Linked DNA regions of Homo sapiens. The protein of the gene in region 5 purifies or fractionates together with the protein of the main gene of each other region. This does not show direct contact. Each region holds a gene or a part of one and is shown on either strand. Other genes may lie near its edges.

The links.
Region 1: the proteins of TECTB (region 5) and RDH11 purify together in Homo sapiens (affinity purification with mass spectrometry; one large-scale study listed by BioGRID and IntAct). This does not show direct contact.
Region 2: the proteins of TECTB (region 5) and MAK16 purify together in Homo sapiens (affinity purification with mass spectrometry; one large-scale study listed by BioGRID and IntAct). This does not show direct contact.
Region 3: the proteins of TECTB (region 5) and ACIN1 purify together in Homo sapiens (affinity purification with mass spectrometry; one large-scale study listed by BioGRID and IntAct). This does not show direct contact.
Region 4: the proteins of TECTB (region 5) and MACROH2A1 purify together in Homo sapiens (affinity purification with mass spectrometry; one large-scale study listed by BioGRID and IntAct). This does not show direct contact.
Region 6: the proteins of TECTB (region 5) and ARL6IP5 purify together in Homo sapiens (affinity purification with mass spectrometry; one large-scale study listed by BioGRID and IntAct). This does not show direct contact.
Region 7: the proteins of TECTB (region 5) and ZMPSTE24 purify together in Homo sapiens (affinity purification with mass spectrometry; one large-scale study listed by BioGRID and IntAct). This does not show direct contact.

Annotation. Positions count from the first base shown.
Region 1 is NC_000014.9:67,685,765-67,689,264, reverse strand, and holds part of RDH11 (retinol dehydrogenase 11), read left to right. Parts: intron 1-3,500. UniProt on the Homo sapiens protein: Retinol dehydrogenase with a clear preference for NADP. Displays high activity towards 9-cis, 11-cis and all-trans-retinol, and to a lesser extent on 13-cis-retinol.
Region 2 is NC_000008.11:33,495,182-33,498,471, reverse strand, and holds part of MAK16 (protein MAK16 homolog), read right to left. Parts: intron 2,931-3,290; coding exon 2,856-2,930; intron 1,848-2,855; coding exon 1,731-1,847; intron 1,241-1,730; coding exon 1,175-1,240; intron 41-1,174; coding exon 1-40.
Region 3 is NC_000014.9:23,078,137-23,081,636, forward strand, and holds part of ACIN1 (apoptotic chromatin condensation inducer in the nucleus), read right to left. Parts: exon of another isoform or gene 2,674-3,500; coding exon 1,411-2,673; exon of another isoform or gene 1,324-1,410; intron 903-1,323; coding exon 684-902; intron 562-683; exon of another isoform or gene 131-561; coding exon 15-130; intron 1-14.
Region 4 is NC_000005.10:135,340,232-135,343,731, forward strand, and holds part of MACROH2A1 (core histone macro-H2A.1), read right to left. Parts: exon of another isoform or gene 3,204-3,500; coding exon 3,029-3,203; exon of another isoform or gene 2,924-3,028; intron 1-2,923. UniProt on the Homo sapiens protein: Variant histone H2A which replaces conventional H2A in a subset of nucleosomes where it represses transcription. Nucleosomes wrap and compact DNA into chromatin, limiting DNA accessibility to the cellular machineries which require DNA as a template.
Region 5 is NC_000010.11:112,286,400-112,289,899, reverse strand, and holds part of TECTB (beta-tectorin precursor), read right to left. Parts: intron 1-3,500. UniProt on the Homo sapiens protein: One of the major non-collagenous components of the tectorial membrane. The tectorial membrane is an extracellular matrix of the inner ear that covers the neuroepithelium of the cochlea and contacts the stereocilia bundles of specialized sensory hair cells.
Region 6 is NC_000003.12:69,091,437-69,094,936, reverse strand, and holds part of ARL6IP5 (PRA1 family protein 3), read right to left. Parts: intron 1-3,500. UniProt on the Homo sapiens protein: Regulates intracellular concentrations of taurine and glutamate. Negatively modulates SLC1A1/EAAC1 glutamate transport activity by decreasing its affinity for glutamate in a PKC activity-dependent manner.
Region 7 is NC_000001.11:40,264,736-40,268,235, reverse strand, and holds part of ZMPSTE24 (CAAX prenyl protease 1 homolog), read right to left. Parts: intron 451-3,500; coding exon 364-450; intron 1-363. UniProt on the Homo sapiens protein: Transmembrane metalloprotease whose catalytic activity is critical for processing lamin A/LMNA on the inner nuclear membrane and clearing clogged translocons on the endoplasmic reticulum.

The DNA.
Region 1 (3,500 bases), on a different chromosome or scaffold from region 5:
ATAGGATCATCCTACCAAATGAACATCTGTGAGATGGGAAGGAAACTGGTGGTTAGCTCAGTCCTTATGCCCAGTCTGTGCCCAGGGCATGACATCTTTTATCAGTTTAGGATAGATAAGGGTAACTGGATGGTGAAAACTATCCAAAGAGTTGATCAGGGAGCTAGGGTGGCCTGGAGGTGGAAAGATGGGTCCAGTGGTGAGAATTCACTAATACATGAATGAGGTGACTCTGATAGTTGTGAGGATTCAGTGGAAAATCATTATGGTGCAGTAAAAGAACCCTGGTTTGACAGAAGATTCATTCATTCAGCCATTCAGCAGACACGTATTCAGTGCCCATGTTGTTCCGTGCACTGGGTTAGGGGACAGGGGATGAATTGGTGAACAAGATAGGTATAGTCTCTTCTTTGGTTTGGTTTACATCTAACGGGGGAGAAAGACAATTAGCAAGTCTTTATACAAACTATTAAATGTAAAATCAGTCTAGTAATGCATGAATAATTCTCATTGTAAAAAGCTCAAATAAGGTCAGGCACAGTGGCTCACACCTTTAATCCCAGGCACTTTAGGAGGCCAAAACCGGAGGATCACTTGAGGCCAGTTCAAGATCAGCCTGGGCAAAATAGTGAGACCTCATCTCCTCTACCAAAAAAAAAAAAAAAAGAGTTCAAAGCATATGGAAGTATGTAGAATTAAGGTGAAAAACCACCTTCATTTATTCCCCTCTTCCCCCTGCTCTTCTCCCTTCATATGACCATTATCAACAGCTTGTGTGCCCCTTTCCAATAATTTTCCTATGCATTTACATATGTATGTATCATGCACAAGGAACTGAAACTCCAACACAGTATCTTGGAGATCTTTCCATTTAGTACATATGGATTTACCCCTTAATTGTATTGGCTGTGTTGTATTTCGTAGTATAGATGTGCCTTAGTGTATTTATGTATTTCCTTAACAACATCTGGATTGTTTCCTTTTTGTTGTGGCTGTTTAATTATAATTGTGATAAATGTTATAAAGGAGAAGTACCAGGACTTACAATGGATTTTAGTGGGAGTCTTGGGGGGACCTTATTCAGTCTGAGGGTTCAGGGAAGACTTTCCTGAAGAAGTGAGTTGCATGCTGAGCCCCGAAGGATGATTAGAAATTAAATGGATTAGAGGTACTGATAGAATGTGGAGGCTGAGGCCGGGCGCGGTGGCTCACACCTGTAATCCCAGCACTTTGGGAGGCCGAGGCTGGTGGATCACCTGAGGTCAGGAGTTCGAGAACATCCTGGCCAACTTGGTGAAAGCCCTGTCTCTACTAAAAATACAAAAATTAGCCAGGTGTGGTGGCGGGCGCCTGTAATCCTAGCTACTGGAGAGGCTGAGGCAGGAGAATCGCCTGAACCTGGGACAGAGTTTGCAGTGAGCCAAGATCATGCCATTGCACTCCAGCCTGGGCGTCACGAGTAAAACTCTGTCTGAAAAAATGAAAAAAAAAAAGGGCCGGACGTGGTGGCTCATGCTTGTAATCCCAGCAATTTGGGAGGCTGAGGTGGGTAGATCACCTGAGGTCAGGAGTTCAAGACCAGCCTGACCAACATGGAGAAACCCCATCTCTACTAAAAATACAAAATTAGCCGGGCATGTTGGCGTGTGCCTGTAGTCCCAGCTGCTCAGGAGGCTGAGGCAGGAGAATTGCTTGAACCTGGGAGGCAGAGGTTGTGGTGAGCTGAGATCATACCATTGCACCCCAGCCTGGGCAAACAAGAGTGAAACTCCATCTCAAAAAAAAAAAAAAAAAAAAGGAATATGGAGGCTGAGAAACATTCCAGGCAGAAGGAGGAGAATGTACAAAGGTCCGGGCTCAGTTTGAGAAACAGCGAAGGTTACCATTGGTAGGTTGTAGAAAGCAAGAGTAATAAAGATCTGAGCTGAGACTGGTGAGGTAGGTAGATGCCAAACCCTTAGAGGCCACAGTAAGGATTTTAGTGTTTATTCTAAGAGCAATGGGAAACGGTTAAAATTAAAGCCTTTTCAAAATGGGGGCAAGAGGGGTTGCAGCAGTTGATTTCATCAGCAGAGGTGAGAAATGAGGGTAGTTTGGACTAGGTGGTGGAATTGGAGGGTAGTAGAAACTTCTGAGAGAGATTTGGTTTGGGAAAGCTTGTTGACTGGAGATGCATGCTTTAGGTGGGCATTCATCAGAACCCTTTTGCCTGATTGGGCATGTCGGGAACACTGCAAGAACCAGGTTTGGCTTTAAAAGTAGAAATCAATTTGGGACCTCTGAGTCTGCATTACTATGGGTCATCTAGGGAGATGTCGAGTAGGCAGTTGGGAATAATACAGCTGTGTCTGCAGCTGTCAGTCCACAAAGACCAGAAAAATTCTGTTTCTTCAAAGCTTTACACCAAAACTCATTTGGCAGCAAAACATTTCCTGTACTAGGGAGATTAGATTAATAGGCAGTGTATGTATACATTTCATATTACCTTTCTACAATCAGAGAAAAAAATTGAAGTATGTCTGGCCCCAGCGTTTTCCATAAAGGATTGGGGGCCTGAAATAGCATGTGCAAAAGTATCATTTAGCACTTACCATGCATCAGGCACTTTTTTTTTTTTTTTTTTTTTGCACCGGTGTCTCACTCTGTCGCCCAGGCTGGAGTGCAGTGGCACGATATCGGCTCACTACAACCTCTGTCTCCCTGGTTCAAGTCATTCTCCTGCCTCAGCCTCCCAAGTAGCTGGGATTACAGGTGCACGCCACCATGCCCGGCCAATTTTTTCTATTTTAGTAGAGACGGGGTTTCACTGTGTTGCCCAGGCTGGTCTATAACTCCTGAGCTCAGGCAGTCCACCTGCCTTGGCCTCCCAAAATGCTAGGCTTATAGGTGTGAGCCACCACGCCCAGCTGCATCAGGCACTCTTTTAAGACCTTTAACATATATGAACTCATTTAATCCTCATAACTACCCTGTGAGGTTGTAAGTATTATGATTATTCCCATTTTAGAGATGAAGAAATGAGTCACAAAAGGGAACTTGCCCAAGGTTACACAGCTAATGAGTGGAGCCAGGATTTGAAACTGGGCAGTCTGTCTACAAAATCCATGCCCATAACCACCACATTGTGTTGACTCCCAGTGTGTCTGCAGTTCAGAGGAGCAGTTTGGACTGTGGACAAAATGTGAGCACCATAGAATTATGGAGAGGGAGTCTGGTGAGCCACGAGAACTCCAACATTTAATGTTTGTGTAGAAGATGATGAACTGGTCCAGAAAACTGAGACAGAGCAGCCAGAAAGGTTAGGAAAACCAGAAGTGGCATAGGCTTATGGAAGCCAGTGAAAAAGAAGACTTTAAGAAGGGGATGGGCGCCTGTAATCCCAGCACTTTGGGAGGCCGAGGTGGGCAGATCACTTGAAGTCAGGAGTTCAAGACCAGTCTGGCCAACATGATGAAATCCCGTCTCCACTAAAAATACAAAAATTAGCCTGGTGTGGTGGC
Region 2 (3,290 bases), on a different chromosome or scaffold from region 5:
CCTGATCTTCATCACTGCTGGCATCCAGTTTATCCATATCCTATTACGGGGAGAGAAAAGATAAAGGAAGAGGGAAAACACTAGATTTCTCCAAACTCCCTTCCTTGTCCCCTCAATCTAGAACAGACTAGGGCATTGATTTGTCTATGTCTGTGTTCAGAAATTGTCCCTTTCTTTAATTTTTTTTTTTTTTTTTTTTTGAGACGGGGTCTTGCTCTGTTGCCCAAGCAGGAGTGCAGTGGCATAGTCATGGCTCACTGCAGCCTCAAACTGCTGTAGTCAACAATCCTCCCACCTCAGCTTCCTGAGTAGCTGGGACTACAGGCAACCGCCACCACATCCAGCTGAATTTTAATTTTTTTTTTTTTTTTTTTTGGAGACGGAGTCTCGCTCTGTTGCCCAGGCTGGAGTGTAGTGGTGCGCTCTCAGCTCACTGCAACCTCCATCTCCTAGGTTCAAGCGATTCTTCTGCCTCAGCCTCCCAAGTAGCAGGGATTACAGGCATGCACCACCATACCTAGCTAATTTTTGTATTTTTAGTAGACACGGGGTTTTGCTATGTTGGCCAGGCTGGTCTCGAACTCCTGACCTCATGTGATCCGCCCACCTCGGCCTCCCAAAGTGCTAGGATTATAGGCGTGAGCCACCACGCCTGGTCATGATTTTTAAAAAATTTTAGGCCAGGCCCTGTGACTCATGCCTCTAATCTTAGCACTTTGGGAGACTGAGGCAGGCGGATTACCAGAGGTCTGGAGTTCTAGACCAGCCTGGCCAACATGGTGAAACCCCGTGTCTACTAAAAATACAAAAAATTAGCCGGGTGGAGTGGCACATGCCTGTAATTCCAGCTACTTGGGAGGCTGAAGGAGGAGAATCGCTTGAACCCGGGAGGCTGAGGCTGCGATGAGCCCAGATTGCACTATGGCACTCTAGCCTGAGCTACAGAGCGAAACTTCATCTAAAAAAAAAAATTTTTTTTTTTATTAGAGATGAGGTCTCACTATGTTCTTCAGGCTGGTCTCGAACTCCTGAGCTCAAACAATCCTCCCATTTTGGCCTCCCAAAGTGCTGCAATTATAGGAGTGAACCACGGTGCCTGGCCACCTCCCTGTTTTTGTTTTTTTTTTTTTTTTGCTGCAGGCCAAAGGACAATCTTTTTACCCATAAAGCTCACCTCAAAATCACTTATGTCACTCTCATCTACCTCACCATCTTCGACAAATTCTCTTTTCCCCACATCCTATAAATAAAACATAACTGTTAGGTTCAGAATACATAATGAAGATTCAGATTAGACATCTAAGTAAGTACAAAATAACATAATGAGAACCACAGTCTTTTCACTAGGCAATGAAAATTTAGTTCTTTCTAAATTTAATGCTTCTGAATTTTAAAAATTTTAGGGCTACCAGATCATTCTTATTCTTGATTTAAATTATTAGCAATAAAACATCCTCATTATGGTTAAAAACTACATATAGACAGGAAAGGCTTTATAATTTGTCACCTTGCAGGAACAATTTTAGAAGACCAATAAATTAAGACTAAAATTGTTAATGGTTTGTTGGTTAGCCTGAAGAACAGAGCAACCAGTGCTAAACCAAAATTAATCACATGAAAGAAAAAAGAAGACATATCATTTTTGGTTAGCGGACTGAAGATGATATTCTGTTTCTCAGTTTTATACAAATGGTATCTAGTAGGTTTGGCAAAACAAAAACAAGACTTACTTCCTCATCATCATCATCATCATCTTTTTCCTCAGTATCTGAAGAGTCACTCTCTGCCTCCTGTTGTTCCAGGGCTTTGTCGAAGGCATGAATGGGGAAGTTGTAGATGTCGCCATACTGAAGAACATAAACACAGATTGGCTTTAACTACATTTGGATATTACACTTGAAGTTCCACTTTCTGTGGAGAATATTACTTTTTCCTCAGTGATTAAATCAGAATACTTAATTTGATGAGTAATATTTTTAAGTGTAGAGCCAGCAGTGTCTTAAAAAAGCATGTTCTTTTGAACATTTAAATCATCTGCAGTTAGTATCAAATAGGTAACTTCTATGGAGTTACATTTTAAAATAATTTAAAATGTAATAGTCTACAAAACCCATGCATTGGGACAAATGTCATTTTGCTGACAAGGGGAAATAATAAGGAAAAAGCATACTTTAGTCATGTTGTCTGTATAAACAACACTAATTTTTAAAAAGAGAATAAAAACTTATTTCAAAGAGCCTTAAAAGACTAGGGTAATATGCAGGAGAAGCAAAACCCCATGGCTTTTATACAGAAATCTGGAATTGTTGTCTTGGGGAATGGAGCTGAGAATAATGGCAAAAAGGGAAAGGTCTCTTATAGTGAATGGAGTATCAAGGGTAACCAAAGCATTTTATGTGCTTGCATTAATTAAAGCAAGGAAGCCAGGCCGATATGGATTTATTTTATTCCAGGGATAAAATTCGAGTGGAGATCTTCATATCATGTTAAAAAACATTTCCCAGCCAGGCACAGTGGCTCACGAGGTCAGGAGTTCAAGACCAGCCTGGCCAAGATGGTGAAACCCTGTCTCTACTAAAAATACAAAAATTAGCTGGGTGCAGTGGTGGTGCCTGTAATCCCAACTACTCAGGAGGCTGAGGCAGGAGAATTGCTTGAACTTGGGAGGCAGAGGTTGCAGTGAGCCGAGATTGCACCACTGCACTCTAACCTGGGCAACAAAGCAAGACTCCATCTCAAAAAAAAAAAAAAAAAAAAAAAAAAAAAAAAAAAAAAAAAAAAAAAAATTCCCAATATGTCTTAGCAACATACTACCACTTAAAATTTCAGTACCCCAAAGCTAATGGCTTTCTCACCGTATCTTGTTTCAGTCTCTCCAGTAATTCCTTCTCAATGGCATTGTCCAGCTGAGCAGCTATTAATGCCTTTTCCTATAAGGGGGAAAGAGCAAATCTGTTTAATTCATCAGTGCTCATTACTCATCTTATAAAAATGGAAGAAACTACCAAGTTGTTTATAAGAAAGACAATGTAATTATTTCCCCTCCTTGCTAATACTGGCTTTTGCCTTTCCAACGAGATAGATTTCTTCTTCTTTCTCTTGTAAACTTCCTTGGGAACATTTCCATTTTGAAATTCCTATGGTTTTGTAAACAACATTCTAAATTAAATTCTAACACAGGCTTTGATAGATACAAAGCATGTAAGTCTATATACATTTAAGTGTCTCAGAAATAATCTAGCAACTCTGGAGCCAGACTTTGTAAAAGCTGAGAAAAGAGAACAGAAATC
Region 3 (3,500 bases), on a different chromosome or scaffold from region 5:
GATATATCACTTACACAGTGTGATGAATTCTTTCTGATTCTGGCAGATGAGAGGTCTGAGTCTCTGAGGTTTGGGGCTGTGTGGCAGCTGGTGGCTCTGCCTCTTCAGCTTCACACTTCTTTGGGCTCCCCTGTCAGGAGATAGCAAAAACGAACAGAGCAAAACATTTAGATCTGCTTGGTTCCTTTTCTTCTACCTGGAGCCTGAAAAAGGCAGGGCAGGACATACACAGTACCAGCTCCACACACGGCCCTCTGTATCTGTTATTTCATTTTAGAATAAGGAAAGGAACATGGCTTAAAAATAGGTACTTCAAGAATATTTATGCCAGTAATCATTTTATCAGAATTTTTAATTTTTTTCCTTTTCCTCAGTGATCCTTGTTCTGACAGAATTCTTTTTTGAGAGAACTGAGAAAAGGCTGACTTCCTTTTGGCAGATAAAAGGAGGAGTTATGAGGAAGAATTGACCCTGGGGGCCCTGGAGATAACCCTGCTGCTCAGCCTCATGTAGAACTTCTACGAACCAGGGAGCTGGAAATGAGTTAAGCAGGATTAACAGGTATCCACCACATTTCTACTGAACCTTGTCCAGACTTAACTTTTTAGTTTTATAGCAAAGACAAGAGGGAAGATCTTGCTTAATCCTCCATCTCTGTGTAGGGAGGGGTCACAATAGCCTACCCGCTCAGGCTGTAACCTCTGGGTCACATGCTTTTCAGCTGATTCAGGCTGACTCAGACGCCTTGCTTGGACAGAGGATGAGGAGGTGGAAGTCCTCTCCTTTGGCTCACAGACCTGCAGTTGTGGCACTGGTGGAGTTGCAACCTCCTGACCAGAAGAGGGATCTTTGGTTTCAGTATAGCTGGTGCTGCTGTCCCTGGAGACTCCAGGGCTCAGAGACTAAAACAAAATGAAACACATAACAAGGAAAATTATTGTATATGGTATATATTCAGTAGATTGCTGAGTTTTCCAGTTTCCATGGACCAAATTTTATACTCTGGACCTTTTTGTCTGTGTTTACTCCCATTTTGTCTGTGTTTATTCCCATTTAGTGGTCTCCTTGACCACTTATTTAACAAATTATTAAGTTTTAACTAGATGCTAGATCCTGGGACACACACGTAAAAGGGCATGCCCACATCCTCAAGAAGTTTCCATCTAGTGGAGGAGATGAGTACATAAATTCAACATTCTATCAAGGGACTCAAAATGAAAAAGAACCCCATTTCGGGAATCAGTTAATTGAAAATACGATTCTGAAATGAGGAGAAAGTAATCAGTGAAGGAGAGTAAAGGAGGCTTTTCCTATTCCTTTCAGAAATCATGACAGGCTCTCCAGGGGCTGAAATGAAAACCACTGGAATATGACAGAACATTAATACACCCGGGATTCTCTCATACTCACTTTTCTGCTGTTGCTTGATGCTGAACGAGAACGTGAACGTGACCTTGATCTGGACTCTGATGTTGATCTGGAGCCCATCTTGGGTCTACCACGAGGGTTGGCATGAGTACGTGCCTGGGCTACATCTCTCTGCTTGGATCTGAGCGGTGAATGAGACCGAGAACCTGAACTGTCAGGAGAGCGAGATCTTGATCTAGAACTGGAGGAGGAAGATGAGGAGGACCGGCTAGAGGATGAATCAGCTGACTGTTTCAATCTGTGGCTTGGGAGAAGGGTATGAGAAGCTCTTCTGCCTTCCTTCTGTTCCAAAGATGGCTGTTTCAGACATTCTTCAGTGATTCCTTTGGCCAGTGCTAATTCCTCAATTTTTAGAGGGAGGGGCTGAGCAGATCTGTCTGACTCAGGTTCAAGATCCTTCTGGGCTGAGTAGTCAGCCAGTGTGCTTTTCTGAACCAGAGGCAGGACACTCTCCTCTGGCACTTTCTCTGCTGGAGATTCTGCTTTGGTGTCTGAAGGACTTGACAAAGGAGACAGGCCTCCTACCAACTGGACAGTATGCTGAGATACTAATAGCTCCCTGGTGTCAGCATCTGTATTAGGAGGAGATAACTGAATGAGGACAGCGGGGGCTGGGCCTTCCATGGGCTCTATTTCTTCTTCGCTATGGAGCTGTGGATGAGGTGGTGGAGAAGATGCTTCCTTTGTTAGTAAAGGTGGAGGAGTCTCCTCCTCGCTGGCAGTTTGCTCTGGCAGCGCTACAAGTGAGGCCTTCTTTCGATCTTCAGTCAGTCGAGGAGGGGAAGGAGACTTCGATTTTTCCTTTAAGCCTTGTGAAGATTTTATTTCTCTTTCTTCCTCCTCAAGGGGAGATGTTGTTTTCATTTCCTTCTCCTGCTGCTGTCTGGCCAGATGACTTTTTCTAGCCTCTTCCTGGGATCTTGTAAATCTCCCTCCTCTCTCTAACACCTCCTGTTCCTGGGATCTTGTTTTGGGTCTCTCATCCATCATCTCCTCTGGTTTTACTCTAGGTATCTCTTCCCCTTCTTCCTTAAACTCTTTCAGGATTGGTGCCTCCCTAGATTTTTGTCCCTCATCATCACCTTCCTCTTCTTCATCATCTTCTTCCTCCTCCTCCTCCTCCTCTTCTTCCTCCTCTGTTTTCAAATTTCGATCTGCTCTGACCCTTAGGTTTCTGGAAGGTGTTTCTTGATCCTCTTCCTCCTCAGCAGGTTGGCTGCCCTCAGACAGTTTAGCTGCTCTTGCCTGAAAGAACAGATACACAATGGCTCCAAATGTATTTGCTCACAGTCAACAGAGGAGAGAAAGTATCTAATGAAGACACCCCTAGGAAGGAGAAATTCAATGATATATACTTTCAGCAACAGAAACAGGAGTGACAGGAGACAATCATGACTAACGTAGCCCTTAGGGGAATCAAAACAAAGTGACCAAAAGAAATATCACAATGAAGCTACTTGTATGTAGTTTAAATTTTAGCTTCAAGCACCCCCTTTTTTTTTTTTTCAGTAAAATATTAGCAGAACATCTGGAAAGTAAAAGGGTGGATAGGGGGCTGAAAGGAACTAACCTACTATCAATTAATACGATTATCTTTTTATCATTTTGGTATATTTCTTTTTGTTCTTTCCTCTAATCATTTCCTTTGTACAGTCATAATTACACTACACATAACATTTTTGTATTCTGCCCACTTAGTGTTATATAACTTTAAAGCTTTGATTGAATGGTTAATTATGTCATATCTTGTCTAATAATGTGCTTTAAGAATACAGAGCAGCCTGCTAATTTTCAAATTTAAACTTTTAAAAAATATTCACTTAGAAATCTAAAAGGCAGAGCAGATCTAAATAAAAAGACAAAACGAACAACAAAAAGATGACAAAGAGGAGAAGGAAGATAACCACAAAGAAATCTAGAGGCCAGGCAGTGGCTCATGCCTGTAATCCCAATCCTTTGGGAGGCTGAGGTGGAAGGACTGCTTAAGCCTAGGAGGTCGAGGCTGTAGTAAGCTGTGATTGTGCCACTGCACTCCAGCCTAGGCGACAGAGCCAGACTCTGTCCCAAAAAAG
Region 4 (3,500 bases), on a different chromosome or scaffold from region 5:
CTTAACCCCTCTATGCTTCAGTTTCTTTGCCCTTGAAAGGAATAATGCTGTTCACCTTGTAGGGTTGCTGTGAGATAATGCAGATAAAGGGTTTAGCACCGCGCCTGGGGCTCAACACATACCCATAAATAGTAGCTTGAAAAAAATAAACCAGCTTTTCCTTTTAAGCTTATAAATCTAAGGAAAGTTTAATCAAAGCCCCAAACTAGTATTCCCTATGTACTACCCCTCTGGAGAGGGGTCACCCCTAATGTGAAACAGAGCTGAGGGAGTGGGGGTATCCATAAATATCGTGACCAGAATGGCTGAGGACAGGATGTCCAGATGCCAGGGCCTCACAGGCTGGAGGGAGCCATCACACAGGTGTGGTTATGGTCATCTTCCATCCATGTAGGCTGTGCCACTGGGCCTCAGCTAAGAGAGTGATCCTTTACCAATGGCTCTTTCCCAACATGCTTACCTTTATACTGTTTTAATTCCAACATTACTTCCGTGCCAGAGACACTGGATGCAACAAACAAGCTGTTTTATTTCCCCTCCTAAAACCCACTGTGATTTACTGGCCGGCTCTGGTGTAATCCCATTTTTTTTTACTCATGAAAGAGAGGGCAGCTGTTTACACAGCTCTATGGGGTGAGGTCTGCCTGGCAGATGTGGCCTGGGTAGCTGTACACATGTGCTGCCTTAGGCATTTCCCCCTCTTCAAGCTTTCAATTGATTATTTTTATTCCTACTTTTTACTCCATGAAAAATGTAAATAAGTTTGTAATAACAGATGCTCTTTTATGAGAATTACTTTTATGCTTCAATTAAAAATTTCCCAATACCCATATGAAAGGTTGTGAAATTATTACCTCCAATAAAGTTTCCTATTGCCTCCCTCTGCGGAAGCACCTTTCATCAGAGCAGATCAAAGTGCATTGAAAGCACTAATTAACTGAGCCTCAGAACCATTTGTGAGGATGGGCAGTCCCTATAGCCTCACTTGCTGATAAGGCAGACCAGGGCAGAGAGGCTGATTCATTTAACCAAAGGTCACACAGGATAGGAGAGCTGAGGGGCCTCACTCACAGAACCCCAGGACCAGACAGCCCAGAGATGTGAGGCCAGGGAAGGGGGAGGCAAGCCTGCCCATAGCTCAACAACTGGTGAGGGGTTGCTGGGGAAATGCTCATTCTGCTGTTTTGCCCTTGACTGGGAGAAGTGGGGGTGGCGGCGGGTGGCGGGCAGTGATACAGGCTCCAGAGAAGGTTCAGGTGCAACCAGAGATCTTTCCCCAGAGCCTGGTACTGGTGGGTCCTGCCAGTCACACATGGCCTTGGCCATAGAAAGCCCTGGGGAACGGTGGCAGTGCCCATCTGCCTGTGGACAAGGCCTTTTACTAGGCAGAATGTCAAGTGACAGGAAGCCCACTCTGTACTAGTTCTGCCACCAGTACTTGAGGTGTGGGACCTCAGTGATGGCAGCATGCAGGAGGCAAAATCACGAGGCCTGCCTAAGCGGAAAATGGCAAAATCTACTCTCTATCCTCTAGAAAGTTTGGAAGGAAAGTGCTTTGCAGAGAGCAGCTGTCAGTTCAGGACATGGTTCTGAGGACTGTTGCTCAGGCTCGCCCAGAAGGGACAGCCTGCAGTGTCATAGGCAGTTGATGCTGCACAGCCCTGCCTTCCTTGGGTGCTGGGAGGGGCTGATGGGCAGAGACCCCAGAAGGCTCACAAGCTGGGATGGGAAGCCCCAGGAGCAGTGGCAGGTACTCTGTCCAAAGCAAGCCACCTGCCAATACAGAACCCCAGGTTATGGCTCCTCTTGGGCGCAAGTTGTTAACAGCTACAGCCTCTAAAGGCCAGTTTCTCTTTGCTTCAGTGCCCAATGCAGACCTCGAGCCTTCCAGAGGCCTTGGACTCTTGGACTTAGACCCTTGGTAGGGAGGACCCTAGCAATGGGCAGTGGGACACAATCTCAGAGGTGGCTCTGCCCTGACAGGTCCTCATGTCTGCATCATGGGACACACTTCTGAAAGCACTCTGCCTTCTAAGAGCTCCTTTAATTTCTAGAGCAACCCTGAGATACTGCATGGGGGGATTATTATGCCAACTTCTCAGAATGGGGGTTAATTTACATGTCATCACTCACCGGGTTAGTGGCCAAGCCAGGATGCAACTCCAGGCCTGACCCCTAAGCCAGAGTGCAGTGCTGCTCCAACAGGCAGGAACCTGATAGGTTATTTGCTGACATGTGTGGGGTGTACAACCAGGTAGGTATTGTGGGGGTTGCCCTGAGCCCTACCTGCATCATCAGCTGTCGAAAAACTAGACTTCTCCTGTGGTGGTCCTCCGGGTATGTGTATGTCTTAGGGGCAACTGTGTTGGTCGTGAAGACCTTGGTGAGTCTACCTGGGGATTTTCTGGGACAGGAAGTGGAGTAGGGCCCAGCCCTGTTTCAATCTCACGTAATTCCCCATTCCGTTCCACCAGGTCCCATTACCTCATTAGCAGGCCAGCAGGGTTACCCTAGGGCAGTAAGACAGGGAGTCAGGTAGAGATGCAGGTTCTCAGGAGGTGAAATATACTTGTGAGTAGAAAGGAAAGGGGCAGAGGGCTTTATCCAAAGAATACTGTGGTTTGGGGGACAGACCATAACACAGCTATAGCCTTATTCTGAGACAGCCAAGCTGTTCGTTTGTATCCCTGTATTCACGCCTCCAGATCTTCTCCACCCAAGTCACTGTGCCCCTCAAAACTTACTCTCTGAGGTACCATTTCTGTGGTCCCAGTACACACTGGGTTCCCCTTCTGTGATGACATTTGCTATCAAAACTTAAGTTTTATATCATCCTTGGGATTTGGGTCTCTCTAATTGTCCCTCACCATCATTTAATGTCTGCATTCTTCCCTGTGTTGTGCTTCTGGTCTCCTTGGTTAAGGCAGCCTCCGTGGGCCTTGCACAGAGTGAGAGCACCACAATTATGGGCCATGTGTGCGCAGAGAGACACACCCATGACCGATACGTAACAAGCATGTGCCCCTACCTGCCGCTGCCGATGGATGGAAATGCAATGGATTTCAGCTTCTTATCATCAGCCAGGGCCAAGCAGTTTTTCACTGTCTTTTCCAGAAGTTCTTCACACTTGTCTGCACCCCAAACTGGACTATTACAGTGGATCACAAACTTGGCAGGCAGGCCATGGCCTGCGCTGACAGCAGCTAGTGGTGCGGGGATGAAACAGAAACAGTGAGCTCTGGTTCACTGCAAAGCACAAGATGCCAAACACAGACCCACTCCCCTGCCACGGTATATCTTCCTGGGCCCTCCAATGCCCTGTGTCCGAGGAGTTCCACAGCTGTCTGCTGCGTTGTGATTCCAACGTGAGCTGGAGCCAAGCCACACCCTTGGAAAGTTGGCATTATGATGTGTCACCACCAGGAATTTTGACCAAGTTCGTAGTAAGCCTCTCTCCACTCTCAGAAAGCATACACGGTTCTCCCAGAGGCAGAGCCTTA
Region 5 (3,500 bases):
TCTCGGAGTTGCTCCATGTGAAGTAGCGGTGAAAAAAACTGCCCTAAAGTTATTTTCCTAGGACACATTCCTAGAGTCTTCCAGAACCTAGAAGGTCACCTCTGACCCGTGATGGCCTGCACGGGTCTGATAAAGTCTAGAATATAACACTTCAACTTTGGGCTTCATTTTTTAATAGGGATACTGAGCAACTGGATCATATTCAGAGAAGAGTGACTAGGATGGTGAATGAACCACCAACAGAGACAAGATGTTTAGCTTGGAGAAGGTGGACATATTTGAAGTACTGTCAGCCAGATAATTATATGATATTATTTCAGAAGACAGAACTGGGACACATGTGCGAGAGTTCAGGGTGTCAGATATCAGAGCTGATCTAAAATGGGAAGGCCCAAATATCATTGTCTTTGGAAGAGGCAGGGAGGCCACCCCACAGCAATATTGCAGAAGGGTTTTGGGCTTTGGGTGGAAAGTCAAGGTTTACCACCTCGGAGGCTTGTTTTGACTCCTGGAGTCTATGATTTTGGCCTCTATTGCTTGCATTTTTTCCGTCTTAAGCTTTTTCATTTCTATCTGTCTAAAAGGAATGATCAGTACTGTTTTGATTGAATAAAAGTCAATATAATCCAACACTGACATCGATGTTCAGCCTTATAAAGTTAACAATGCTAGAAGCCCTCAGAGTTTCCACTTTAAATAGAGTCAAAGTCTACAATGATGAGAATGGCTACTTTCTTGGGTACTTAACTTGTACCAGGCACTGTGCTAAGTGCTTCCTAAAGATTATTTCATTTAATTCTATAACAAACCTATGGGGTAAGTGCTATTATTATCCCTGCTAACAAATGCAGAGATAGAAGCCCAGAGAGGTTGGTTAACTAACTTGCCCAAAGTCACACAACTAGTAAATGATGGAACAAGGCTTCAAACTAGTGGTCTGTTGAGAAGGCCCATTTTCTTAACCACAGCACTAGGGTATTTCCGTAAGCCAACTACCTTCCTTATTTTGTATTGAGGGTCAAAATAACTTTTCACTAGGAATACCAACCATGGGATATTGTCAAGAGTGAGTGGGAGGGGGATGGAGAGAAAAGAAAAGAGGAAGCCTGCTGAGTAGAACTGGTGCTTTTAGAGCCCAGCATTTGAAGCTCTCAGGATCCTAAGCAATTAGCAGTGCATTGATTCCATTGTGTTATCTAGGGCAGAGCTCTCTTTCTGGTAATTTGATGGAAATATATGCAGGGAGCAGTTGTTGCTTCAGAAACACATAAGAATGCTCTGAAAGTGGAAGAAGGGAGGAGAAAAAAATACCAACCACATGGGTCAGGCATAGGGAACTGAGCCCATGGCGGGAATATTAATCAGTACGAAAGTGTCAGGATGGCAGAGTCCCTTCTTTGCTGAGGCCCGTTTGTCCTGGAAAGGTCTTGGTGGGCCTCAGGGGACGCTTGACCCTTAATTCTATACTTGTTGAAGGGAGTGTCCCGTTATCTGTCTGTCCAGCCCAGAGGATGGCCTGGGGGATGCTGAGGACATGTCTCTTATTATTATTATTTTTTTTTAAGAAAATAAGCTCATTCCAGTTCTAAGACTTGATGTTTTGTTTATGCCTGAAGCTCAGCTCTACGCAGCTGATGGTGGGCAATGATTTTTGACAATCCTGGTGTCTCCGTGTTGCCAACTATTGTAAAACCTTCATGGGATCATATCTATAATTTTATCTGGTTAAAATAACAATTATTCACTTCCAGACAGGGATTCAATAGCAAAGGCAGCCTGTCATCAGGGAGTCCCCTGAGACTGTTGTCAGTGCGCAGAAGCCAATTTTCCTCTCCGGACGGCTTTCATCACTGACTGTAGTGGTTTCACCACCTTATCATCACCCTGGTGGCCCATGCTGTATTTAGCCCCCGATTATAGGTCAAGGGCTACGTGGATTCCCTTTCTCGGTACTTAACGACTAGTGGTGTGTGGCTAGGGGCAGATCTAGATTTTGTGGGATCTTGAAACTTTTACAATGTGGAGAGCCCTCTTTAATGAAAAGAATCACATTTTTCAATACAGAATTAGACACAAGGCCTTGAAAGGGCCTTGAAATGAGTTTCATTCCCTTCGCAGTAAGTAAAGTGACCATATCTAGGAGATCTGTGTTCCAGACTGGCCACCGCTCTGAACTACCTGTGGGCTCTCAGGCTAATCCTTCCTCCCTCTGGGCTTCTGGTCCTCATCTGTACAACAGACTAGGTTATTCTAGGATCCCTTACAGCTCTCGCCTTCTGAGTTCAGCAGGGCTGATAGCTTCCAGGCAGCAGGTTAAGCAAGCTTAAAGAGTTCAAAGTTAATGGAGTTAGAGGTAGTACGATGTTTCTCCTTTGAGAAGTGAATGGGTTGGACGTGATGCCTTTCCAACAGGTCCTCTGGCTCTAATGTTCTATGCAAAGGTTTGTATTTCTGCCCACATCTTCCTTTAGCCTGCTGGGACAGTCTCTGTGTGTATGGGTCCTCAATGCAAGCTGCAGGTTTGAAGAAACAAAGCACCCCTTCTAAAGAGGAGAGCAGCTGGGCAAATGGCCATTGCATATTTAGTTTCTCTGGAGCACTTTATTTTGAGAGAGACCAAAGTGTGCCTTTAACTTCTATGTCAACATGGGCAGCCTGCCCAAATTAAGCAAGGAGGAAATGCTACTTGAAAGGCTTTAGAGACCAAAGAATTAGGCAGTGGAGGCCGACCCCAATCCTTCTCTTTAGCCCTGTCCCAGTCAGGAACCTCAATACATTGGGCCAAATATTTTAAGAGCTAGATCTTAAATATAAATCTCTGGAGGGGGTTGTAGTGAAAACTAATCTTGACTAAGAGTCAGACATTGGCTGTCTTATTGTCTGTTGACCTTGCCTCAGTTTTCTCATCTGTAAAATGGGAAGGTTGGTCTTATATCTTTGCGGAAGATTGGTTTTTTTGTTTTTATTTTTGTTTTTTGAGATGGAGTTTCACTCTTGTTTCTCAGGCTGGAGTGCAGTGGTGTGATCTTGGCTCACTGCAACCTCCGCCTCCCAGATTCAAGCAATTCTTCTGCTGCAGCCTCCCAAGTAGCTGGGACTACAGGCATGTGCCACCACATCTGGCTAATTTTTGTATTTTTTTAGTGGAGACGAGATTTCACCATGTTAGCTAGGCTGGTCTCAAACTCCTGACCTCAGATGATCTGCCTGCCTCGGTCTCCCAAAGTGCTGGGATTACAGGTGTGAACTACCACGCCTGGCCAGAAGGTTGGTATTATAGCTTATATCTTATACCTTTCAGCTCTTCTATCCAGTCTATGAATCTGACTTTCTGTGACACTTAGTTTTTAAAGAGGTTTAAAGCTAAACCAAAGTTCATGTTTCAACTTGAATTTAAGAATGGGGCTCTGCACAGAGCTTGGGGAAGACTGAATCCCGAGGAAGCATCCCACCATCTCCTAGAAAGGAAAGGCCACAGGGAAGTAATGGGAACCTGGAGA
Region 6 (3,500 bases), on a different chromosome or scaffold from region 5:
AGTAGCTATGTCTATAGTTTTACCACAAGTTACTGAAAGGGGAAAAAAAAATCTCACAAAATTTTAGAGCTAGGAAGGATCTTGCTAACCCACCTCATTTTACACGTAAGCAAGCTAAAGAATATACAAGTTAATAAATTTGTCCAAGGCCACCAATTGCAAAGTTGGCAATAAAAGTTTGCCATAACAGAAATCCTCGGATCAACTCAAGGCCACATTTGGTGACTCCTGTCAGGCTGCAAGGCCAAAAAGAACCACCAAAGAGGCAGCAAAATATTTCCTGAGGAGTACAGGCAGCTTTGCACTGAGTTCCAATTTTCTAGCCGAAAAAGCTATTTTTGAAGTGTGGTTTCTGAGGAAGGCTGACTCACCGAAAAAGTGGGGAACAATATACTCACGGTGGACTTCTCTAAATTGGCGATGTTTCTCTGTGGTCCTTAATCAGCCAGAGGGATCACTGCAAATATGAACCCACCCAACCATTTTCTTTTCATTGTTCTTAAACTAAAAACAGAATTCTTTAAACATTCTACAAGGCTTCGCAGGGTCTGGCCCCTGCCTGCCTCTGCAGCCAGGGCCACTGTATATAGGTGTGGAGTTGGTGCCTGGCTGAGGGGGTAAGTGGGGCCTGGAATCCAGGTCACACACTCCACAAGCCAAGGCCAAAATTTGGCTTTGGCTGTAACTGCTAGGAGAGGAAGAAGTGCCTTAGTAATTAGCATGAGGGAACTCTCAGGGCTAGCAGCTGGCCTACCTGCCAGGTTTGTCACACCATCTCCTGATTGCACCCCCATCCACTCAGGGTTTCTATCTACCCCAGAACTCACCTTGCCTTTTGCCATCTCAGGGTGAGGTGAATCAGGCAGAGAGGATACTTTGCACACAGGCCTCACTCCACCCTCCTTCAAGTCTCAGCTCAGCCAGCCTTTCCTCAGTCTCTCTGACCAGAGCACAGCTCCATATGCCTTTTCTTTTCTTTCCTCAAGAAAGGTTCTTCCTCTGTCACTCAAGCTGGAGTATGATGGCATGGTCATAGCTCACTGCAGCCTCTTTCTCCCACACTCAAGTGACCTTCCTCAGCCTTCTGAGTAGCTGAAACTACAGACTACAGGTGAGTGCCAGCTTGCCTGGCTAATTTTTAATTTTTTTCTTTTCTTTTCTTTTTTTTTTTTTTTTGAGACAGAATCTCCCTCTGTCGGCAGGCTGAAGTGCAGTGACACAATCTTGGCTCGCTGCAACCTCTGACTCCCTGGTTCAAACAATTCTCCTGCCTCAGCCTCTCCAGTAGCTGGGATTAAAGCATGCGCCACCACACCCAGCTAATTTTTACATTTTTAGTAGAGACGATGTTTCACCATGTTGGCCAGGCTGGTCTCGAACTCCTGACCTCAAGTGATCTGCCTGCCTCAGCCTCCCAAAGTGGAGAGCTATTTTTGACTATAGGCATAAATGTGGGCTTTGGACACAAATTCGTCTTGAGTAAATGAGAACAGTGTCTCCTTGGCCTAAGGATCATGGAATAAAGGAGACTGTACAGTAGGTAAAACTGAACAGGAGCCTGTCTCTTTTGTTACAGAAAGGTCATAGTGAGATTTTCCTAACCAACTGAATTAGGAAGGCCTAGAGGATTTATTGTATTCTTGCCATTCCCTAAATATTTACTGTATCCTGTGTAATTTGGCACAAATTAAACACTCGCATCCAAACCAACCATTGTCTTTTTAACAGTTGGCATGTTAAAAGTGTTCATACTAAGACATGCCTTAGGAACCTCCAGATTTTCTTTTGTTTTTAATAAACAACAGGTTGGACTCGGATTAGAAACCATAAATCTGACGCTTCCCACAGTGACGGAGCTTCAAATAATAGTTGTGTACAAAGCTCTGATTAGACTTCATAAAACCCTTTTTAACTTTTCATTATGGAAAACTAACATATACATAGGTAGAGAGAATAATGTATAATGAATCTTCATGTATGCTCATCACTGCTTTCACAATTAGCAACCCATGGTTACTCTTAACAACCAATACTTTTTGGGGAACAGAAGTGGAAAGATATTTGTTTACAAACTGTTCTTCTTGAATGATTTTAGAAAATTAAAAAAAAAAAAAAAAGGCTGGGTACAGTGGCTCACACCTGTAATCCCAGCACTTTGGGAGGCTGAGGTGGGGGGATAACTTGAGGCTAGGAGTTCGACACCAGCCTGGCCAACATGGTGAAACCCCGTCTCTACTTAAAAATACAAAAATTAGCCAGGCATAATTGTGTGTGCCTGTAATCACTTAAAAATACAAAAATTAGCCAGGCATAGTTGTGCGTGCCTGTAATCCCAGCTACTTGGAGGCTAAGGCAGGAGAATCGCTTGAACCTGGGAGGCAGAGGTTGTAGTGAGCCAAGATCCTGCCATGGCATCCAGCTTGGGCGATGCAGAGAGACTCTGTCTTAACAAAACAAAACAAACAAAAGCTACTGAGAACTGTCACATGGCAAATTCTTACAGAGCTGTGGAGAGAAGACAGGGGCTGGACAAATGCTAACGAGCTTGGTAACACAGACTTCCTTCTCACAAGTTTCCTGTCTATTTACCCCTCACTAACCCCCAATTTCTGCATTCTTTTTCCTCTGAGACAAGGAGAAGCTGCACCAATGAGATATGAAGCAGATTAGAAGAAGCAGGGCTTTCTGCCTTCCAGGTGTCTCCTTTAGCAAATTGCATAACGAGAAGGAAGGCCAGGAAATCCTATCATATATCAATGATGAATGCTTGCAAACCTGAAGTTGTTAGCCTGAAGGTTTTGCCTAAAATTACAGGGCTTGAAGGCATTCTCAGAAACAGGAAGCCACGCTCATTTCAAGAGACAGAGGATGGTATTAAGGGTGAAGGCATTCTCAGAAACAGGAAGCCACGCTCATTTCAAGAGACAGAGGATGGTATTAAGGGTTAAGTTTTCTGAAGCTGAGTGATAAGGATAGAATTCATTTGTCCAAAAAATAAAAAATACAAAATTTCCAATATTGATGCTTAATTAGATATTAAGTGGGTAGGTCAAGAATGGGTCTTGACCTTTTTGAACTGGATTTCCTGTACAGAGCTCTCTGTCCCTAAGCTGATGGAGAGCTTCTCCTTTCTAAGACAGGGGGCCAGGAATCCAAAATACACTCATTTATTTGCACACTTACCTAGAATCATTGTAAATCCTTACCTAGGGAAAGGAAACAGAAACTACCAACCAAAGGCCAAAAGTAGCAGGCAACATTGAAAAAAAAAAAAAAAAAAAAGCTGGACGGAGAGGGGAGAGAAGTTCAGATAAACAAAGTTACATAAATAGTATCAAAGGTGTGCCAGCCATACCTCTCGCCTGTCATCCCAGCACTTTCGGAGACCAAGGCAGGAGGATTGCTTGAGCCCAGGAGTTCGAAACCAGCCTGGGCAACATGGCAAAAACCCTTCTCTACAAAAAAAAATACAACAATTAGCCAGGCTGGTGGCACATGCC
Region 7 (3,500 bases), on a different chromosome or scaffold from region 5:
CAAAACAATTCCTTTTTTATTACACAGGCACTATATGAAAGGTACCTTAAATCATACAGACAAATCCCTAAGATAAAGAGCCTGGATTCTTGGCTTACCACATGGAAGAAAGTCACCTGATAACTAAAAATACTCACACTGGACTATTACGTGATTGAGAAATAAACCATTGCAAATAAGCCTGTGATATTCTGGGATTTGTTATTGTAACTAATGTTATGCCAATACAGCATGGGTAACCAAGGACTATGCAAACAGAGAGGCAAATCTTAACATTGGCAGAAGCCAAAAAATTAACTTTAGTGGAAAGCCTGCCAAGCTAAAAGAAATACCATGACAAATACATGCTAATGAATCACATACCTCATATTCTGGTCCAAAGCCAGCATAACCACAGAACCGTCCAGAAAGTCTCCAGAGATAAGGTATTCCTCCAAAGAGAAGAATAAGCTATAAAACAAAGCATACTTTGATCACAGTTGAACAGTACTAGAAACTATCATATGAGAAAGCATGGTATAAAGAAAGAAAGGACAAAATAATCATCTCTATTAAAAAAACAAAAGAGGCCAGTACGGTGGCTCATGCCTGTAATCCCAGCACTTTGGGAGACTGAGACAGAAGCATCGCTTGAGGCCAGGAATTCAAGACCAGCCTGGGCAACAAGGTGAGTTGAGACCCCATCTCTACAAAAAATTTAAAAATTAGCTGGGCCTGATAGTGCGTACCTGTAGACCCAGCTACTTGGGGGACTGAGGTGACAGGATTGCCTGAGCCTGGGAAGTCAAGGCTCCAGTGAGCCGTGATTGTGACACTGCACTCCAGCAAGGCAATAAACTGAGACCCTGTCTCAAATAAAATAAAATAAAATAAAATAAAATAAAATAAAATAAAATAAAATAACAAAATAAAATATTTTTTTAAAAAATAGACCTATTTCACATTTAGCATAAATTATGCATTTAGATGAGTACTAACCATTGAGATACTAAATTTAGGTGGTTAATATAACATTTTTGTCTGTACACTATATATGGATGAATTGTATGGTATATGAATTGTATGGTACATGAATTATCTCAATAAAGCTGTTCTAAAACAAAACAAAAAAAAACCTTTTGTCAAAAGACCACAACAAAATCACAAACTAAACTTAGAAAGGTTAAACAGCTGGGTATGGTAGCATATGCCTGTAATCCCAGCACTTTGGGAGGCCAAGGCAGGCAGATTGCTTGTGCTCAGGAATTCGAGACCAGCCTGGACAACATGGTGAAACCTGTCCCTACAAGAAATACAAAAATGAGCCAATTATGGTGGCATGATTCTGTGGTCCCAGCTACTCGGGGGAGCTGAGGTAGAAGGATTGCTTGAGCCTGGGATGTCGAGGCTGCAGTGGGCCATGATCGTGCCTGCACTCCAGCCTGGGTGACAGAATGAGACCCTGTCTCAAAAAAAAAAAAAAAAAAAAAAAAAACTTGTTCGAAATCCAACAGCTAATGAGTGATAGAAATGGAATTTGAACCACATTAATATGGCTCCATAATTGTCTTTTCTGTGAAAGAAAATAGTCCTTTTCCATCAGAACAAAGCACAGAAGTGGAGAGTCATGTCCACTTACTAAACTGGGGAACAGAATGGGATTATCTGTGTCTTTGCTGGGTCAGGAAGAGGTGAGGTAGGGGCCCGGCTTTCACAGGAGAAGGCTCTTCCTCAGCACCACCCTTTGTCTTGGTCTTGGGCAGATAAAGTGAACACAGACATTCACTAAATAACCAGGACATTAGGAGCTAGGAAGCAGCTCAAAATTTGAGAAGAATGCATGTTTAAGAATTCTACCGCCCAAAACACATACAACTTTGTGGAACTCATTTGTCAAGAGGAATCAATTTATTTTTTCTCTCTGTAGGACAGCAGCTTAGGAACACAATGATCAATCACATTCCTTGACTAGAAGCACAATATTCCCACTGGTTCAGACATAGTTCCTCATGGTTTGAGGGGTTTTGGTACTATCATATTTCATGGGTACCCTTCCAATCTAATTCCCATTTTCATACATGTATCTACAAATAATATAGTGATTTATGTATGCTTTTAAAGAATGTATATAAATGACATCATATTATACTTATCAGTCTATGATTTGCTTTTTATATTCTAAATTTTCTTAGATCCATCCATGGTGGACTTCAACTTTATTTGGTATTATCAGGATATTTCCTAAAGTGTTTATAACAAATTACACTCCCATCAGCAGTACTCCAGTGTTTCTGTTTTCCCACAATCTCACCCACACTTTAAACTATCCATCTTTTAGACTGTTACCAGTACATTGGATTGGTTTAATATCATGGGTCTCAAATATGGTCTCTGGACAGCAGCAACAGCATCTGGGAATTTCTTAGAAATGCAAAGTCTCAGGCCCTACCCCAGATGTACCAAATCAGAAGCTGGAAGTGGGGCCCAGCAGTTTCTAGGTAAACCTGATGTACACTAAAGTTTGAAAATCATTGCTTTAATAAATTGTTTTCTTTTTTTAAGAGACAGAGTCTCACTCTGTCACTCAGGCTAGGGAGCAGTGTTATGATCATAGCTTACTGAATTTTTGAACTCCTGGGTTCAAAGGATCTTTCCATGTCAGCCCCCCAAGTAGCCAGGACTGTATGCACCACCATACTTGGCTAATTTTAATTTTTTGTACAGATGGGGTCTCACTATGTTGCCCAGGCTGGCCTCAAGCAGTCCTCTCACTGTGGCCTCCCAAAGTGCTGGGATTACAGGCATGAGCTACTGCACTCAGCCCCAATAAATTGCTTTTCAAAAGGCTCCCCTAACACTACCTCCAGGTATTTCCACTTTACTACAACTAATTCAATCTTAGACATAAACCTTGTTTTCCCAAAAGACATGCTTTGGTACCACTGTCTGACATATGCTGTAGTTGTTGATCTAATTGACCTGGGATGGTATTTCTTTCAGCCAATTCCCAATACTAATAAATAATGTATAATTAAGGACTTATAATGCTTTTAGTAAAGGCCACAGCAACTATTATTAAAAGTCCAGTATTTAAATAAGCATCAAGGGTAGTTTTAATATGAATTCTGAATGATCTATAAATGCATTTGAAAACTGATACTGCAAACCTTTTGGGGACTGAAAAACAAAGCATGTTTAGTTTCTTTTGGGGACTGAAAAACAAAGCATGGTGAACTGTACAATGTCTCTATGTTGACAATTTCACTAAGCATGCTCCCAGGGTTGTTCTATGGCAAAATTAATGATCCCAGAAAAAATAATTCCAGCGCTTTGACATATATTATTTCACTACATTCTTTTTTTTTTTTTTTTTTTTTTTGAGACAGGATCTCACTCTGTCACCAGGCGGGGGTACAGCAGTGTGATCACAGCTCACTGCAGCCTCCATCTCCTGGGCTCCAGCAACCCTCCCACCTCAGCCTCCAAGTAGCTAGAACTGCAGGTGCACATCACCACACTCA